Linked DNA regions of Homo sapiens: region 2 is linked to region 1. A link means that fine-mapping ties the variant in region 1 to the expression of a gene that starts in the linked region. Tissue or cell type: testis. Region 1 holds a variant in brackets; the other region holds the start of a gene. All regions are shown on one strand. Distances are from middle to middle.

Region 1 (2,687 bases):
AATACATTTTGGGTTTTATCTCACAGGACACATAAAACCCTTTTGTTCCATTTGTCATAGTTCCAGGCCCACCGGATCTCTCCTACCCTTGACATGCACCTCCATTACCTATCTAAGCCTCAACTTCCCAGGGTCTCCCTCTGAACTTTCCCCTTCCTAGGGGAAAGAAGGCAAAGCAACATTGTTGTGATGTGATGTCCAGGACTGGGGTCACATGGCCCCCTCCAGATCTGTCCCAGTGGTCACTTTCCCAGGTTCCTGTCTGACTTTCACATTTTGTCTAAATGTGATACAATTATTTCTGGGGCAGAAAGGAGACTCTAAAAGGGGCCCTTTGGTTACTCTCCATGCACCGCCCCCCCAGGGTCCTGAGACCTGTTCACTTGATCCCAGAAGGAAGAAACGAGCTCTTATTCCCTCTCAGACCTCTGCTGATACTTGTTTTTCAGCTAAGTTCAAGACAGCCAAATGAATTTTTCAGAGAGACCACAGCTGGCTTGTCAGGACCCAGGTAACAAGATGAAAATAATTGAGAGAGGAAAAATCCCAGAGCCCCTCAGGTGTCATTTTCACAAAGTTTTCTTCTGGGTATCCTTATGCGTTCCGAGTTATTCATTGGTTCTCTTCTGTTGTCCTCACTGGCAATTTTCCTCTGCCTCTTCTTCTTTCTCTACAGTTTTCCAAAAAGCATAAGCTATGTGTCCCTGATCCTGAGCAAAGTTGATGTGAAACCTTGTTTTTTTTTGTTTTTTGGTTTTTTTTTAGAACATTTCATAGACAAAACAACCCCGCTGCAGCTGGAGGCTGCTGGGATTTCTGTGCCTTGTTTTAATGCATGGGACCTTTCATGAAATCTGGGGCAGTTAATGGAGGTGGGGTGGAAAAGAGAAGAGGAGGAGGGGGAAGAGAGGCATGAACTTTTACACCCAAAGTGGGACTTCAGAAGAATTTACAGTCGTCTTCTGTGGAGACAGTTAAGATTTTTTTTTTTTTTTTTTTTTTTTTAGACGCAGCCTCATCCTGTCACCTGGGCTGGAGTGCAATGGCGTGATCTCGGCTCACTGCAACCTTCATCTCCCGTGTTCAAACGATTCTCCTGCCTCAGCCTCCCAAGTAGCTGGAATTACAAGCACCTGCCACCATGCCCAGCTAATTTTTGTATTTTTAGGAGAGATGGGGTTTCACCATGTTGGCCAGGCTGGTCTCAAACTCCTGACCTGGTGATCTGCCCACCTTGGCCTCCCAAAGT[T/G]CTGGGATTACAGGCGTGAGCCACTGTGCCCGGCCGAGACTGTTAAGATTTTATTGCCCTAGTACCAGCAGTTATGATGTTCTATAGAACTTATAGCTGAGCCCATGCCAGGGATTCCCCAGCTCACTGAAGCTGGAAGGAAGCCAACTGGACTGCCGAGTTCACTTTAGGAAGAGAGAGGGAGTTAACTTAAAGTAGGAGGTGGGTTGGAGGAAGGATAGAAGCCCAGAAAGTAAGTAAGGCATTGTAAAGTCACACCTTAGGCTCTGCAGTCAGACAGAGCTGGCTGTGGGTGACTTTCCGATATTTACTAGCTTAGGATATTAAGCAAGTGCTTTAATCACGCCAAGACTCAGTTTTCCCATCTGTGAACTGGAGGTCATAATAGTACTTGCCTTGTTGGATTGTTGTGAGGATTCGATGAGATAAAGTCTGAAAAGAATTTAGCACAGTGTCTGGTTCACAGTAAAAGTTAAATCAATATTATTTTCTATTATCATAATTATAAATAATGGCATGAGCAAAGGAGAGGCTGCGAGTAGAGTTCGCACTTTCCCTCCCTAAGTGTCAGTGCGTCTGGAGAGAAGACAAACATTCTTACGTATAAACAGTCCCTTCCGTGTGACTCTCTCATCCAAGCCTGCTGCATACCTTGGGTGTGAGGGCAAAGAGTAGTAAAAAGGAAGAAAAATGGAAGAAGAAAGAAGAGACCACAAAAGCAGAAGAGATTCACCGGGGGTGAGGGGCACCAGGGCAGCAGGGTGGGGGCAGGAATGATTGGAAAAAGACATGCAAAAGACAACCACGTGAAAGAAATGAATATGGATATGGAAATTGTCAAAAATGGAAAGAAGTTTTGCAGCTGGATGTGGACAGAGCAGGAAATGTGGAGGAGAGGTGTAGGAGTCTAAAAATGTACAGGGTTTAGTTTGCCGGCCAACACCTCCTCTGGGGAGGTAACAACTCCTGAAAGCCATGAACTTTTAAAAAGGAACCTAAACAGCACAGCAAACCTTCCTGAAGAACATATAACCTCACTGTGTACTTTTTGTCAGCCTCAATTCCTTCCCCACAACTCTCACTGAGCCATTGATCAGTGACTCACCCTTATCTCCCACGATCTCACACTCCGCTGTAACCCTAAAGAAAACTCTGCTCCTTAAGGTAATCCTTGACACTGTGCTGTGCAGGCCTCTGCTGCAAAGGGTAGGGGCAAAATTACACCATGCCTGGAGCTTAGTAAGTGCTCCAGGCATGGGGTAATTCAACAAACAATGTTGGTTGAATGAACAGAGGGATGAATGGTGTGGTATACTTGAGGCAAGCCTACATGCAAGTCAACAAGACTGCTCATTGGATCACTTGAGCCCAGGAGTTTGAAATCAGCCTGGGCAATATAGTAAGACCTTGTCTCTACAAAAAAAAAAAAAAAAAAAAA
Region 2 (2,687 bases), 57 kb after region 1:
TTGCTATTGTCCTAGGCAATGTTTAGCCCGTCCACTGGTAACCTCAGTCTGTTTCCCTGTTTCTTTCACTCTCTGCTTGCCTGCACAAATTTGCATGCATATATGGGTTCTCCCCTACTTAAACAATTTGGAATTCATATTGGCAAGTGGATTTCCCCCCTCTTATAGAGGAGATTAAAAAAAATAAGTACAGTGAATGTGTCCAATTCAGAAAGGCCTTGGGCCTCAGTTCTCAGCTTCCCCTAAGAAGGCCTCTTTCCAGCTCGATTCCAGGAAGGCTGGCTCCAGGAGCTCAAGCCAGCAGAGGCCCTGCCTCGGGCCTCAGCTCATAAAGCCAAGGTGTGTCTGAGTCCCTTAACTCTGTCAGGCTTAGAACTTGAGCCTTCACTCACTGGCTGCTGTCAGAGTTCAGCGTTCCCTGCCAAGCCATCGGAAAGCTGGAGGCCAGAGAGAAAAGGCGAGAGGCATCAGATTTCTGCCTGCAGATGGGAATGGGACTGACACTCCCCACATAGGATTTCTCTGTGAGCAACCACAGGCATTATCAGCGTTCAGGATCACATCACAAAACACAGCCTGATCATCTTGCCTTCTCTTTTTCCTCCTCTCAGAGATACAGATGCATTGCTCCTTTTCCCTTTGCCTCCCGGCCTTTTCCTTTGTTTGCCCCTCTCCCCTTTCCTCCACAGCCCCGGCTTTCCCAGGTCTGTTTCTCTGTTGCTTTTTCCCCAAAGGCTCTCCTGTTTTCTCCTGTCCCTTTGATTCCTCCCCCTCCTTTCATCCTGCAAATCTTTCTCTGTCGACTCCCTGTCTCCTTGCCATTCTCGGTGTGCCTTTCGGATCTGTTTCCTTTGACACTGGTCCCAGGCCTGCTGCCAAGTTTCAGACCCATTAGTGAGGTGCCTTGCTGACTGAAACACAAATCAAGACTGATCCGGGTACAATTAGCAGCAGCTCACACCTCATCTGGAAAGCATTAGCCAGCACTGAGAGTGTAGGGAGGGAGGCACAGGGAAATATTGATGCCAAACAGAATAGATCTCCTACTTTTGGAGCGTGAAAGGATCCTGACCCAGTAGACATATAACTGAAAATAAGATACAAATGGATAATGCAAAGTTGAGAGGCATGTTAACTTACCTCGGCCACTCTTCAGCATCTACGCAAGCAACACAGGCTCCTTAACACACAATTCAGGTGTATAAATATCATCCAGGAAAAGGGGTGTCTGATTCATTTAATCCAGATATTCTAACACATGTGTGATCCGGGAGTCCTCTGCTGTCTTGCAAAATTCTATCTTGGTACTGTTTCTAAAAATTTAATGTACAAAAGAATCACCTGGCATTGAGCTAAAAATGCAGATTCTGATTGACTAGGACTGGAGAGGTGCCTGAGATTCTGCCTTTATATCAAGCTGATTGGTGAAGCACACTTTAAGGGTCTAGGAAAATTTAAGACATTTAACTTTGGTCAAGTACCCTGATCTTCTTCTTTGGAGCACTCACAATTATAAGGAAGGTTGAATGATATAATTAGCTGTTTGATGCCTATCTTCCCAACTCAGAGGCAAGCTGCCCAAAGGCAAGGACCAGGCCTGTCTGGCTCTCCTTTGTATCCTCAGTACTAGCCCAGTATGTTGCATATAGTAGGTGTTCAGTAAATATTTCACAAGTGAATTTTCACAAGTGAATGAACCAGCTCAATCCCTAAGGCCCATCAAAAGTTACTCCTATTTCAGAGAGCCTTCCCAGTCCAGCCTCCCTTATCCATACCTGCCTGGTGGCATTTCATCATTTCCCCTGTGTCTTATCTTAGCCCCTCAAGCAGATCATTAGTTGCTTGAAACTGGGACTTTGTCTTCTGTGTTTCTGAACTTTTTTTAATGTCCTTTTTTCTCCCTTCCTCTCACTCCCCATCATAGTAAGGGCTTGCTCTAGCAGGCATTTAATGTTAGTTGATTGATTGAGAGACCCTAGAATGATGCCAAGTTCTATTTAGACTTCAATTATAATGCTCAAGGGGTGGCTGGATTTTGGCTTGGATAAAAGCCAAGATTTTATATGCCCCAGTGGAAAACCTTTAATACCACCTAACACATTGTGGGGTGGGAAGGCTAAGACATTATGTGTGTACAAAATCAAGCGATGTAATACCGTGAGGCTCCCAAGGCAGTTATAAATCAGGCCACTCCAGAGGGGTAACTGCGGGCTGTGGCCATTACTTCACTCCTGTTTTCTCAACTGAGAACGACGGCTCACGTTTGCCAAGCTTTACTTGCAGGGGTGGGGGCTGTTGTTCCCCAGGATTGGGCAGACCGTTTCTCTTGGAAAGACAGAAAACTGGCTCACAGAGTTCTGCCAAAGATAGGAGAACCTGGTCTTGTTTAGAACTCATCAAATGCCCTATTTTTCAAACATCAGGGCTGTGTGAAATGCAAAGTGCTTTCGTCAAGCACTACCCCCATACCCCATAATATTAAAACATGCATATTTTAAGGGACATTTAATCCATATGCTTTTTATTTACTTACCCTTAAATCATCAAAAATAATTATTATGAAAACCTGTTTGACATCTGAGAAACTTTATGAGCATAATTTGGAAATTTAAAAATCTTGCTTTCAGGAAAAAAACAGAAAGTTGTGCTTTTCCAAAAACACACGGCTTTTAAAACAAAGAGACGTG

The links. PIP is the estimated chance that this variant, and not a neighbour inherited with it, causes the effect.
Region 2: LINC02044 starts here. The variant in region 1 is fine-mapped to the expression of LINC02044 in testis (GTEx, PIP above 0.99). The same link has a PIP of 0.9 or more in left ventricle.

What each region holds. Positions count from the first base shown.
Region 1 is chr3:113,109,095-113,111,781 of GRCh38, forward strand. The region is part of intron 1 of NEPRO-AS1 (NEPRO antisense RNA 1); the gene reads left to right. Among named protein-coding and RNA genes, the nearest start is that of LOLI1, 6.0 kb to the left of the region's middle. The variant T/G (reference allele first, on the strand shown) is at 1,250.
Region 2 is chr3:113,166,461-113,169,147 of GRCh38, forward strand. LINC02044 (long intergenic non-protein coding RNA 2044) reads right to left here and starts at 1,271. Exons shown (of 4, transcript NR_110823.1): 1 at 1,141-1,271. The region is part of intron 2 of NEPRO-AS1 (NEPRO antisense RNA 1); the gene reads left to right.